2 linked regions of the Homo sapiens genome follow. The protein of the gene in region 2 interacts with the protein of the main gene of each other region in a biochemical or structural test. Each region holds a gene or a part of one and is shown on either strand. Other genes may lie near its edges.

Region 1 (7,024 bases), on a different chromosome or scaffold from region 2:
GAACAAGGCAACTATTACAGCCTTAAAGGGAACAGAGAGAATGTGCAGGGGCTTCCTGGAACAAGGCAGAGAGCCTGCTGAGAGGCTGGAGGGACAGGTTGGAGAGATAAGCTGTATCTCACAACATAATATTGAATAGGAAAAATAAAAGTGTGGTTCTATGCCTTGCTTTTATTTTTGTTTTAATTTTTTTTGAGACGTAGTCTTGTTCTATTGCCCAGGCTGGAGTGCAGTGGCATGATCTTGGCTCACTGCAATCTCCGCCTCCTGGTTCAAGCGATTCTCCTGCCTCAGCCTCCCGAGTAGCTGGGATTACAGGTGTGTGCCACCACGCCTGGCTAGTTTTTGTATTTTTAGTAGAGATGGGGTTTCGCCACGTTGCTCAGGCTGGTCTTGAACTCCTGACCTCAGGTGATTTGCCCACCTCAGCCTCCCAAAGTGCTGGGAATATAGGCCTGAGCCACTGCACCCAGCTGTGCCTTGCTTTTAAAAAGTCAACCTCACAAGCACAATCTGGAGAGATGCAGTTTAACTGAATATCACGGGTAAAGAAAAAAAAACACATTCACAAGACTTTGAGATCTCGGTAAACTGTAAGCGCAAAATGAGTGACAGATGTGCCATGACCACTAAAATTCTTATGTTGAGGTAGGTGTCATTGATCAGTTCTCCTGTCTTCAATGATGCCAGTGACCAGCTTGCTTTGCTCCGGGCTGTCGGGCTGTTGTGTGATTTTCCTTTCTGAATGTTACACTTTAACGGGTACACAGGTAAACTGAAGCACATTCGTAAGGGAGGTCCACAGGACGATACAGATACTCGTCAGTAAATTATAGAAGACACAGTTAAAGGAACTGGGGCTATTTTGCTTGGAGAAGGAAAGCCTCAACAGAGACCCAATAGCTGTCTTCGAGTATCTAAGGGGCTGTCAGGAGAAGAGGCTTTAGTCTAGTGCAGAATGACCTTGAGGGTATAGCCGGGACTATTAGGCATACTGCAGCTCAATACAAGTGAGAGCTTTAGAGTCATCAGAGCTACGTGGAGATGGGGGGCTGCCTCAGCACAAGGAACAACCTGTCACCTTGGGCATTCAAGTCCATGCAGCGTGTCTTGGCGTGCAGTGAGGCAGGACCTGGCACCAAGGGCTGCACTGGACATCAGACTAGCTGACTCCTAAACCCTTTCCAAACCTGAAATCCTGCCTTCAGCTCCCATGTTCGTCACAAGAATTAATGGGGATTAGTTATGTGAAAGTGCTTTGTAAACTCTAGAGTGTTCTATATATATAAAGGGTTATTACTATTTTTTCATTACCTTGGAGTACTTCGATTCTATCCTGATTGCCATTGTCTCTACTTATCCCTCAGTTCCCTTCAACCTCATAAAAATGTCTAAATTATAAATGCAAAATGTAATATTATGACTATGATTCAAAATTTCAAAATGCTTCACAAATAGTAAATGGTTTTTCATCTTTTACTAGTGAGGGGCAGGTCCTATATTCAGTTTGCTTCTCATGGTCCTGTGTCTGTGGTTTCAAGGGATGGAGTAGCTAAGGTCTTACAGATCACCTTACAGGGAAGAACTAATTAATATCAATAGCACCCTCACAAAAATCTCTGGTAACAAAAATATCTCTACATTAATAAGCAATACACAAAAAATACACAAATAAATAACCAATACACAATAAATTGATAAATAAACCTGAGTCTACTCTGATAGAATGTGACTTCTGTCCTTTACTCAGTGTCTTCTGGTGGCCCATCAATTCTCAGGCAATCAGAAGGTCTGTTATTTGGTGGCATAGGTGAACTTGTCACAAGGTATTATGACTTGGAAAAATTAATTGCCAGATAAAGCCCCAATTCTACTTAGGTGTTCAAAGTATTTTCCCCACCTAACTCCAGTATCATCTCTAATGAAAGTAACAACTTGACAACTTTGAAATATCATCTCCTTTCATTTTTTTTTCCAGTTTTTTCTCCCTTCCATTTTTGTTTTTTGTTCACCAGAGGACTTAACAGAGAGTGACACAACATAGGCAGGCTGAGAGAAGGAAACTAGGAAAACCAGGAGAGAGCAAACTGGATACAGACACTCCTAAAAAGTACAGTTAACTCAGTGACAAAGCAGCCCTCACACCAATGTGTTCTCTAAACTGTTTATGTGTTTTATTATTTGACTGACTGAAACCCAGAGCAAACAAGGGATTCAGAGGCTGGAATTTACATAGAACATGAGAGAAGGTAAGGCTCAGATGAGGAGAAATACCAAGAAGTTTTGACATACTTCTCTTGTTGATGCTACGGATCACTGGGAAGAAAATATTTTTTAAAAGAAGCTATTAGTTTATGCTCTGTATTCAGTCTGACACCTTTTATGTGTTTATATTCCATGAGTGAGGCTTTTTAATGTAGATAGTATTTCTTCACATGACGATGACACCTATGAAGAAAAATCTACTCTATACTTTCCTATATTGTGATTATAGTGCTCTAATTATAAACATTCAGGGAAAGGGCATGGTGGCTCATGCCTATTATCCTAGCACTTTGGGAGGCCAAGATGGGAGGATTGCTGGAGGCCAGAAGTTTGATACCAGCCTGGAGAACATGACAAGACCCCGTATCTACAAAAATTTAAAAATCAGCTGGGTGTGGTGGTGTGTGCACATAGTCTCAGCTACTGAGGAGACTGAGGCAGCAAGATCCCTTGAGTCCAGGAGTTTGAGACTATAATGAACTATGATGGTGCCAGGGTATTCTAGCTGGGGTGACAGAGTGAGACCCAGTCTCTAAAAGAAAAAAAAAAGTCAGGAGTGTGCAGGAATAAATAGAGTCACAAATCATTGGCTAATCTCTTATGCACCTCTTCCAAACTCCCCAATCCATCTTTGTGGAAAGCTTGCTGAAAAATAAGGCAATGGGGCCTGTATTGAACGAGCCACTTTATTGTATGGTTTGCCTCACATTAATCTAAGCTTGAAGGACAAGCCCTGGATGGGATACTTGGCCATCAGTAGACCTAATGGAGGCCTGTTAGTGTTTGGTAAAGGTTCATGCCTTATAAGCACTAGAAGAAAATGCATGGCCAGCAGAGTGTAAGTATTCAATGTGTTCAATATGATTATGGCTGCACCAAAGCAGACACAAGTTAAAGAAAGATATTCTCCTCATGGAGCAGAGGATGAATCTTGGAGAAGCATGGGCTTCAACAATGACAAGTCCTCTGGGGGACAAAGTAAAGACATACCTTGAGTTCCATAGCTGGTGTCTATTGCAGACCCATCCCATGAATCCACAGCACTGTCCACACTGGGCACCGTGGAGGGGTACATGTCGGAGAGCTTGCCTGGCTTCTGTGCTGGTGAGGAGTCCTCCTCCACATCCCCCAGGTCACTCAAATGGCTAGAAATAGGGAACTTCTTGGGGCTCGATGCTGACTGGGCTTTATAGACAGGAAAGGAGTTTAAGTATCAGAGTAAATTTAAATAAAAATATACCAAGATACTCCGTGGCTAGAGATTTGTTTCCCTAGAATTACACACAGACACTAGCACATTCTTTCAAGGAAGAAAATGCACTGGAAATCCTTAATTGTGGCTTTCAATTCACTACTCACCATCTGTCTGTTTCTTAATTTTCAAGGTGACAGTCTCTCCTGCCATCTGTAACAAATGGATGGCTTCACTCAGAGGCTTCCCTTTCAAGCTGCTGCTATTGATGGCTAGGATTCGGTCTCCTATGTGGATTGCGCCAGTTCTGAAAAGCCAAATAGTAATAGGAGAGGTAGAAATAATCCCTGTATGGTACTGAATATAAATTCCCTGACATACCTTATACATTCATCATAATAAAGACTTGGTAAGGATCTCCAGAAGTCCCTTCTTGCTTTCTCCTGGGCAATGTTATAAGATAACTGCATCTGTTGTGGATTACTTTTTAGTTTCCAATAAAATTTTAAAAATTGTTTTAATTAGTTATTAAAATGAACTGTGTTTTTTAATTCCAAGAAAGCTGAGTCATTGGTTAAGCACCCTAAAAATCCCAAGAAAATGAACAATGTTGAATGACAAATGTAGTGGATAGCATGGAGCATCCTTTCTTTCTACAGATTTTTTTTTTTTTTTTTTTTTTTTTTTGAGACAGAGCCTCACTGTGTCACCCAGGCTGGAGTCCAGTGGCACGATCTTGGCTCACTGCAACCTCCGCATCCCGGGTTCAAGCAATTCTCCAGCCTCAGCCTCCCAAGTAGCTGGGATTACAGGCAAGCACCACCATCCCCAGCTAATTTTTCTATTTTTAGTAGAGATGAGGTTTCCCCATTGGCCAGGCTGGTCTTGAACTGACCTCGTGATCCATCTACCTCGGCCTCCCAAAGTTCTGGGATTACAGGTGTGAGCCACCGCACCTGGCCTGTATGAGCTAATTTCTAAGGTACACTGCAGCTCCAACATTTTGCAATGCTGTGTCTCTATTTTGCTAGCCACTGTTTTCAACTGTTAGCAGGAACAATGCATTTGTGTATTCCTGAGCTAGGTTACTGGAGGGCAGATTTGCTTATAGGGTTTGTTATATGTCCAACAACACATCTCAGAAAGAAATGCAGTTTAGCGGAGGGTGGGGAGTGGGTGTGTGTGTACATCATTGCCAAAGGAAAAAATGGACATTCCAGCTTTTAAGACATTATTAAAATGGGTTATACACTTTGTTTCCCATAATCCTTGAAGATGATGTCTGTATCATCCTTTTCTGAAAACACAGCAGCTAAGTGTGGCACCTGTCAGGTAACAGAGGCTCAGCAAGTGTTTGCTGAATGAAATTGGACAAGCTGTTCAACCTCCCTGAACTTTAGTTTCCTCCTCTCAAAATGGACACAATACAAATCCGCCTTCAGTCAATTGTGGTCAGCTTATACATTTCAGAGAGTAGTATCAATGCTAAGCCCAAGACGTCTTTTACTGCCTGTAAGATGCCCCTCAGAGTCAAGTCGGAACTCTGCCTGAGAGTTCTCAGGCTCTAAGATCAATCCTTTGTGCAGATTTTTAAAAGCCAACAGATAACCACAGAGAGAGGAGCATGTTTTTATGTGGTTGTGAGGAAGGAAGCCCGTCTCAGACACAGGTAATTATAACAGTTACTTCAAATTTTACCTTTCAGCTAATCCCCCTTTAGTGAGGCTTGAAATGATTATAGGATCAAACGGCTCTTCAGTTCCTGAAATTGTGATGCCAAGGGGCCCCCCGTAGCGTTTAAGCTCCACGGTGTAAATAATTGCTCCGGAACTTTCTTGCTCATCTGTAATAAATGCCAAGGAATCATAATTGATTTCTTTGGAAAAAGCAAAAGAGTAAGATGCATAGATTCATACATAAAAGAATTCAAAACATCCTCGTCAAAGTATCATGTCACAGAAAATAATTATTTTGGGAAGTAGCATTTCCTTAGTAGGATCTTACATTCAAATACAGGGATATAATCATTGTCAGTGCCAGGGGAGAGGAACACTGCCTAATGACTTATGTTTTAAATGTGTGAGATCCGCCCAGCTGGGGCTGCAGGACCTTTCAACTGTGTCCATGTCTAGGACAGTGCTTACCTAGCATTTAGTAAGTATGCAGTAAATATCTGTGAAATAAACATATGGCTGAGGAGGCATTATAATATGAGAGGAGAGAGTCACTCAGTAACAAAGAAGACAGACATTGGGTCACGCTGTTTCCGTTTTAAGCTTTACATGCATGCTAACTTTTGATATAGAAAAGTGGATTTTGCGAAGGGTTGGAACAAATAACATATATATGGTTAAGTGGAACTTAGATAAGTAAACTTGAAGACAACAGCAAGAAATCTAGAATCTCTTAGATATCATTCCACTGACTGTCTTCTAATGTGAGTCCTATCAGTGAATTACGGATATTAAAGTGGAGGTTTGAATGATCATCTCTCCTCTTTCAATGGAGTAACAGCTGTTGTAAGCTATGTTTCAACAGCATAGACCAGCCTGCCACACTGTCATAAACTAATTTTGGCTATTCAACATTATTATAGTTGAAGACACTTGTGAATGTGCTCTGCCTAAAGCACTGGCCAGAAAGATATCATGGGCCGCCTTCAACGTGATGGGTATTGTGATGGTGTCAGAGTTGCAAATAAGAAGTCTCAGAATTCAAAGGTTTTATTTGCTTCTGACATGCTTAAAGTTCTTGGGCACTTCTTGTTTTATTCCTTGGGCCTGGGAGCTGTGAATGGTTAAGGAACTGTTTCATTTCTGCAACTAAGGATAAAATGAAATGGTTCAGTGGCTACTTTAGCAAAATAGTCAGCTTTTACAGTCAGACTACATCCTAGTGAAGCATTAACATGGCCACATTTTTGCAGTGAGCAGCTGTTCGTTTACGATATGAAATCCTAAAATAAGGAGGAAAACCAAAGCTTGAGTTAACAATTCAATTATTTGTGTTTGCAGTGAAGAATTATGATGAATATAAAATGAAAGGTCTATCAAGTCATTTGGGAAGCAATGTGTCCTCTCTCGCCAGCACTTACTTCACTTCTGGCCATAGATTGGGAGTTTTGAATGCAGCCATTACCTCCACTTTCTGAGTGCTCTACTCAACGTATTTACTCCACACATTCAGAACTAAAGACCATCCACCACACACTGCAATGCTTAAGTCAACATTTTAGGGCACAAAATCTTCAACATTGGGCTCAAATTTACATTAGCAGCTGAGAAGCTCCCATATCAAGCCTAAAACAGCTCTGTTTGCTGGTTCACAAGTTTCTTCTGGGCTGATGCTGAAGTTGTGGCCAATAGGCTGGTGATGATCTGCTAAGGGCTCCAGAGAGAAACATCAAGATAGAGGGTAACCAAATAATCAGCAGAGGTCAAAAGTCTAAATTTTCCTACAGTACGATATTTTGTCACCTTTCAGAGCTGGCTTTGACCTAAATGAACAGAGTACTATTGGATAGATTACATGTACTTTGCAGCCCTCATCATCAACAATATCCTGGAT
Region 2 (7,843 bases):
ATAAAATATAACCTGAATACTTTTTTTTTTTTTTTTTTTTGAGACAGGGTCTCCCTCCTGTTGCCCACATTGCCCAGGCTGGAGTGCAGTGGGGCAAACATGGCTTACTGCAGCCTTGACTTCCCAGGTTCAGGTGTTCCTCCCATGACAGCCTCCTGAGTAGCTGGGACTACAGGCATGCACCACCCACACCCATCTAATTTTCTGTATTTTTAGTAGAGGTGGGGTTTCACCATATTGCCCAAGCTGGTCTTGAACTCCTGGGTTCAAGAGATCCTCCTGCCTCAGCCTCCCAAAGTGCTGGAATAAAAGGCATGAGCCACTACGCCTGGCACACCCTTAATACTTTCTATTAACTAACTCAGCAGTATCTGTATCTTCTCATTCATCCAACCTAAAAACTTAGTATCTGCTAGACTCATCCCTCTCTTCATGCCTCACATCCACTATCAGTCACCAAATCCTACCTATTTTACTTCATATATACTTCTCGAATTTGTCACCTATTTTGTATCTCCACCTCAATTATCCTGGTTATCCTTTAGAAGGTTCCAGAAAATTAGTGTCCCTCTTTCCAGTCTTATCCTCCCCAAAATCATAGTTCATTCAGCTACCAGAGTAATCAATCTAAAAACAAACCTGACTAGACCAGGTGCCAGTTTAAAACCAGAGATTGCCACGGACTTCAAGATGGAGTCCAAGTTTAAGGCTAATAAGGCCTTTGGTCATTGGGACCCAGACTCATCTCTTTTTTTTTTTTTTTTTTTGACAGGGTCTCACTCTGCCACCCAGGCTACAGTGCAGTGGCACAATCACACTCACTGCAGCCTCAAGTGATCCCCCCAACTCAGCCTCCAGAGTAGCTAGGACTACAAGTGAGCACACCCATGCCCGGCTAATTTTTTCATTTTTTGTAGAGATGGCGTTTCACTATGTTGCCTAGGCTGGCTCCAACTCCTGGGTTCAAGGTCCTCCTGCCTTAGTCTCCCAAAAAACTGGAAATTAAAAGCGTGAGCCACTGCTCCTGGCCTCCTGCTCCTTTTCTTCCCTTTTTGAGGCCTAAAAGTATGGATTGGTGTTTCTCAAATTAGGATATGCAAGTATCTCTGATTAAAAATGTCAAGACTTATCACAGCTAGAAACGATCCCTCTTACTAAACTTACAACATCAATTTTGGTGAAGATTTTTTGAGAAAGACATTTGATATTAATTACAGAAGAGAATACAAAATTTGTATGACTGCTTAAGTCAAAATCCAACAAAGATGGCACTGATAGCACGCAGCTTTGCGCATTACCCTGGGCCTCTGAATGGGGACGATGCTGACACATCATCACAGATGAAAAGTCCAACACTATCAAACTCTGATCACTTCATTTGCCAATGAGGCACTGACTGTAACACTGAGAACTTAATTATGCCAGATGACAGCTGACACTTTACATTAATTCATTTTTTAACCATCTCCAAGACCGTATAGGACCTCATCTCTACTCCTCTCCTCCTCGTTCTTTCTACACTAGCCACATGGCATCCTTGTTTCTGGCATACAGTATCCCACTTTAGGGTCTTTCTTTGCCATTTCCTCTATCTAAAAACCTTTTCCCATAGAATATGGCTCCCTTTCTCAACTCCTTGAAGCATTTCCCCAAATGTTGCTTTCTTAATGAGGTCACCTTCCCATTTCCCTTATCAATTACCAACATTATTCTAGAGTAATAACGTCTATTTTTCTCTTTATATCATTTTCCTTACTTATTTATTGTGTTTATTATTTGGTTCCCTACCAAAATGTAAGTTGCATGCCAGTAGTATTTTTGTTTTTTTCACTGAGTCTATTGTGTCTAGAAAAGTGCTTAGCACATTGTAGATTCTCAATGAACTACTTATTGAATGAACAGTCCTATGAACCAGGTATCTCCCTTGGCCAGATTTTACCTAATGAAGATTCTGCAGCAGTGAGAACTTGCCTAGAGTCACATCGTCAAAGGTGGAGCTAGAATCTGTAAGCAACCTGGCTCTCTACTCTTTACCACTGCTGCATGTTACTGCATGGTGCCTCTCATTTATGTGGTGAATTTCAAAAGTACTATTTTGTATGTTTCCCTTACTAGACAGTTCCCTCGCAGCAGGGGATACTACTTCATCTCTGTTCCCTGACTGGCAGTTTCTAACCCATGTTACACGCTCTATAATTGTTTACGGAATGAATGAAAGCATAAATGAACACACAAGCTACCCAAAGATTTTTACATGAATGTCCCAACTGGTTAAATCATTTTTATCTTTCAGATTTAAACTTTTATAAAAAACAAAACCAAAACACCAAACCTGTCTTCAAAAATCTAGTAATTCAAAAAAATTCTTTTGAAGTGAAAAAACATGATTTCTGATAAACGATTTAATTAAATGGAAATGTACCCTATTCTTACAATTTCTACATCCTGGTTTTTAAAGCTTTATTCGACGTTAGGAAATATTAAGCAAAAAGCTCCAAAACCAGTAACTGACTCGCTTCATTACATACACATGCAATAATATTAAGCTATCTCCGATTTAAAAAACGCAAATAATAGTGCCATTTTCGTAGACATCGAGAATTATAAAACAATCAATCATGCCAGAGAGAAACAGACACCTTCACTTACAAAAACTGACGCTAACGAGTAACACCCTCCGGAGCAATACCTGGCCCAGGGTCAGCAGGAGGTAGTCTTCTCGAATAAATGTGACAAATACTTTGGTCAGGGCATGACTAATTTGCCACATAATGCCAATAGGTTGACTCTGAGAAACTACCATCCCCGGGCAGAAGGGGCGGGTGTAGGAGAGATTTAAAAACGAGGCCCCTCCCAGGCCGCCTCAAAATCTAGGGCCCAAGATTCTTCTCCTCAGAGCTCCTCACCGTGTCTAGACTAGGGGCAAGCGACCATTTCTCAGGTAGAGGATGACGCACAAACGAAAAACTGGCCATCCAACATGAAGGACGAGGAAGCGCACGAAATCAGAGCGCACAGCTGAGTGAGGAATCCCCCTTCTCCTAACCGATTCCTCTCCCGAGAAATCGCGAGATTTCTCGCCTTCACGGGATCTCAGGCCGAAACCTCGCGGCCTCTCAGACGAGGGTGGGTTAGCGGGGGCAGCTCCCAACCCCCGTCCTGGACCCACAAATCACCTCGACCCCTGGCCCACCCCGGCCGTCACCGAGAACGGTCCCCTAGGGTGCCTAGGGACTTCCGGAGCCCGACCGGATCCGGAAGCTTCTGAGAGCGAGGGGGTGGGGCCGAAAATCAAAAAAAGCGCGGCGAAAGCTAAAGGCCGGCGCACGCTGGGCGGTGGTGGTCCCTAAGCCGGGCCGCGGCCGGTGCAATGGACTCCACTGCCTGCTTGAAGTCCTTGCTCCTGACTGTCAGTCAGTACAAAGCCGTGAAGTCAGAGGCGAACGCCACTCAGCTTTTGCGGCACTTGGAGGTGAGAGGCTCTGGGGTAGAGGACAGATGGGGCTTCCCCTAGCAATTCTTATTTCACAGTGAGGCCGAGGAGTGGCGGCCCCAGCCTGGGAAAGAAAGGACAGTCCTTCGATCCCTCTGTTGTCTTTTCGTACTGGTAAAGGCTAGTGAGTGTCGGGGTTCCGCTGGCCGCAGCGAGAGGCAAGAGCGCTCACTGAAGGCTCTAGGAAAAGCGGGAGTGGGGCAAAAGGTTGGGAAGTTCAGGTTGTTTCGAGTAGGTAACGGAAAAAGCTCGGAACTTTATCTTTTCCTTTGCTTCTAGTTTTGGTTTTTCTACGAAACCAAGCCCTCAATACACAACTATTCTCAGTGACGGAAAGTCATGATTAAAACTTGGTTTTGCCCTTCGGTAATCTATAATTGAATTTGTTGCTTACTGCTCTTACTTGAACTCGGGTTGAACTCAAACTTGAAAAACATTATTTCAACATTAAGAAGCACTTCCCCTTCCTAGTAAGCGTAATCCTTTTTCTTTACCAAAATACATTGCTTACAGTTTTTTAATCTTAGAATGCTGAATTGCCTTTTTTTCTATTCTAGTGATATGTGTCCAGACGATTCCGTTTGTTTTAGGATCTTAATCTTCTGCTTTCATTTGTTTTGCATTTACGGAATTCAAACTAACATTGACCTCAGTTTAATTTTTTTAAAGCTCAATTAAGGCTTATTTTAACTCTCTGTGTCACAGCTTTCCTCTGTTAAGGTAGAATTGAACATAATTTTAAAATATATTGTATTATATTAACCCTATGATAAAAGACTAATGTGCCAAAAATTTGTAAAATATTACAGGAAAAAAATGATTTCCAGTAGTAGAGCAACAGCAGCTGTTAGTGAAGCTGCTGTTGTATTAAATGTGTCTGTCTTATCTTGAGCTTCACTGGTGCTCCTCTTTTCCCTACTTCAAGTGCCCATCTCCTAAGTACATTTGTTTTCTCTTTTTCATTCTTTATTTTAAGAAGTGCCTGCAAACCTAATAATTAAGGTGTTAGCTGTTAAATGCTTAAGGCTTTGCTTCTGAATTAGCATAGGCTCCAGAAGCCGCAGAATAAGCAGGGCAGTCCGTTTAATTTAAAAATCGGGAGTTAAGCATTTTGTATGCTATTCTGAAGCATTACCTTTCTTTGAATAAACAGGAAGGTTGTGCACTGAAAGAGATTTAAGGCACAGGGGCTTACACCTGTAATCCCAGCACTTTGGGAGGCCGAGGCGAGCGGATCACCTGAGGTCGGGAGTTTGAGACCAGCCTGACCAACATGCGAAACCCCGTCTCTACTAAAAATACAAAAATTACCTGGGCGTGGCGTCTCTCTGTTGTCCCAGCTACTCGGGAGGCTGAGGCTGGAGAATCGCTTGAACTCGGGAGGCTGAGGTTGCATAAGTAGAGATCGCTCCACTGCACTCCAACATGGGTGACAGAGTGAGACTCCGTCTCAAAAACAAAACAAAAAAAAAGAGAGACTTAAACAAAATATGGGATGGGGTCTTTACTGTATTCCTAAACTTTCAAGGGGTTTACATAAAACTCTTCTACCGTTGTTGCAAAGGTATGAAGAGCACTGGCTTCAGGTTACTACTAAAAAGGACTTTTTGTAATTAAGAGATAAAATACATACAGAGCATAAAGTGCATTAATCTTAAGTGAAGAGTTTGATAGTTTTTAATATATAGGTACCATAGCTACCATATTGGTAGCTAACATATAGGTAGAGTAGCTACCACCTGTATCATGATACAGAACATTTCTAGCCCCATAGGGTTTCTTCATTGCCTCTTCACATAAGGTTTGGGTAAGTAGACTCATACAATATGTACTCTTGTGTCTGGCCTTTTCCACTCAATAAAATCTGTGAAATTCATGTTGCACATGTACCGCTACTTCATTTTTTTTATTATTGATGTGTAGAATTCTATTGTATAAGTGTACCACAGTTTACATACACTTTCCTGTTGATAGGCATTTGGGTTGTTTACATTTCTGGGTGGAATTAAGAATAAAGCTGTTGTAGACATACATTTTTTGTGGATATATGCACACATTTATATACTTAGGAGTAGAATTGTTAGAGCATTGGAACATATGCCTATATGTTCCGTTTTAGTTGAAACTGCCAAACAATTTTCTGAAATATGCCATTTTATCTTCCCACTAGCAATATGTGAAATTTACCATCACTTATCCACACCAACCCTTGATGTTTTCATATTTCTTAATTTTAACCATTTTGGTTGACAGTATTTGTATTTTTAATGGTGAATGTCTTTGTACAGACTTCATGAGAGCGAGATCTGAGTATGCAAAGAGAGATGGGTATCATGTGAAAGGAGATTATTCATTCTTCTGTACTTCTCCCACACTTTTATAGCCCCATGCAGAGTGTAGGCTTTGAATGTTTGATGACTGGCAAAGCTGAGCTAATCTGATTTTTAATGATGATGTTTCATAACACTAATTTTGTGTAGTGATTAAAAGCATGAATTCAGGAACCAAGCTGCCTAGATATGAATTCCAGTTGTGCTTCTTTACTATCAGTGTGTACCTCAGTTTACTCATCTGCAAAACAAAATAGTGGTACCTACCTTATAGAGTTATTATGAAGATGAAAAGAGTTCACATATGTAAAGTGCCTAGATCGATGCCTAGGCCAGAGTAAGTGCTGTATAAGTATTAGTTATTATTAAAATAAATTATCTTTGTTTTAAGAGATTCAGTATAAGTAAAGGGAAAACTTGTAAAGCAATTTTTATTTTACCTAGTGCATATAATTATTACATGTTAGACAATTTATGTTAATGAGATACAGGACCAATCCTATAGAGAATCATTTTTAAAACAGCAAGTGTCTTATTCTGGAGAGCTAGATTTATAAATAAGCAACAGGGTAATGCCCACAGTATTTCCTACCCCAGAATATCTGTTACTGGCATCTGCACTTTCATATTTGGACTTATTTTTTCTTGTATAGACTTTTACTTTAGTAATGTTAAAACACTCCTTGGGAACAGATAATGTGAAACTCTTATCAGCAAAGCCTTAGAAGAAAAACTGATGTGGGTGAGAGAATAAAGGGAGGATACAGAAAGGAAAGATTAGAGGGATGCTAAAGCAGCCTGCTTAGGCTTGATCTTATTAAAATAAGTATTCAGGACAGAGTTAGTCTTATTCTAAGGTAACTAATGGTTTTGCCATCTTTGTAGAAAAGATATGCTTTGTAATAAATACATCCATAAAGTATGTTGAAAATTCATGCTTTGAGACAACTGCTTTTGGCCTTTAGTTCCAGCTTTACCTCCTCTCTTCTCTCTTTCACTCTGTGTGTGTGTGTGTGTATGTATGTGTCTGTGCATGCGTGTATGTGGCTTATAGATTACAAGAAAGTAAAAAAAACAATGGAATAATCAGAAATAAAATTTTTCAATGCCTTGCCTGGCTACTTAAAAAAAGATTCACTTTTCACTTCCTTCTTTAATCCCTTAACTTCTGAGCTCACCTATTGTCTTTGGGAAGAAGCAGAAGGAATAATCCCATAACTACCCTCTGGGCTTCATTTTTCATTCTCCTCCCTCAAAGTAAGTAGAATGTATTAGAATTTATTTGCATAGTAAATATATTGGTACTAGAGTGCAGATTTGTAGGCTATGCCTTCATCGCATGTTCAATGTAGTGTGAAGGAGAAATATTGCTAGGAACTCAAAAGTTTGCTAACTTAGGAAATAGAAATATAATGTACTATAGGATAGCATAATAGGCCGACCGAACTGAGATGGTATAAGAAACTAAGAAAAGCTTCCTGGTGGAAATTATTTTAAACTGAGATCCAAATGATTACTTTAGCTAGGGAGGGAGGGATTAGGTAATTGATGGGTACTCTAGGCAGGGGTGAATTTTTCACAGCATGTGTGAATTTTTTAAATTGGGAAGGTAGCAGTGGCACTTTGAGGGAACTGAGTTTTTTATTTGAAATGGAGAAGAGATGAAAATTGCCATCGCTTAACCAACACATTTTGATTACTATTTTATAGGTAATTTCTGGACAGAAACTCACACGACTATTTACATCAAATCAGATATTAACAAGTGAATGCTTGAGTTGCCTTGTAGAGCTACTTGAAGACCCCAACATAAGTGCTTCACTGATCTTAAGTATTATCGGTTTGCTGTCTCAACTAGGTAATGCATTTAATTTCTCCTTTTTAGTTTTTGGAAGATGTATGAACAATATTTTAAAGTGCAGGCTTAGTTATAGAATCTCTTAAAGAATGATTCACCTTCAAAGACTTCTCAGTCTAGTGTGCATTGTGAATCTTTTGACACTGAGGAAGTCATAGCTAC

What was found.
Region 1: the proteins of DZIP3 (region 2) and GRIP1 form a complex in vitro, tested with the Homo sapiens proteins (one study listed by BioGRID).

Annotation. Positions count from the first base shown.
Region 1 is NC_000012.12:66,389,053-66,396,076, forward strand, and holds part of GRIP1 (glutamate receptor-interacting protein 1), read right to left. Parts: intron 5,301-7,024; coding exon 5,156-5,300; intron 3,765-5,155; coding exon 3,625-3,764; intron 3,451-3,624; coding exon 3,256-3,450; intron 1-3,255. UniProt on the Homo sapiens protein: May play a role as a localized scaffold for the assembly of a multiprotein signaling complex and as mediator of the trafficking of its binding partners at specific subcellular location in neurons.
Region 2 is NC_000003.12:108,584,903-108,592,745, reverse strand, and holds the start of DZIP3 (E3 ubiquitin-protein ligase DZIP3), read right to left. Parts: upstream 3,025-7,843; 5' UTR 2,907-3,024; exon of another isoform or gene 2,650-2,906; intron 1-2,649. Other genes in the region: protein CIP2A, read left to right, coding at 3,371-3,472, 7,534-7,681. UniProt on the Homo sapiens protein: E3 Ubiquitin ligase proteins mediate ubiquitination and subsequent proteasomal degradation of target proteins.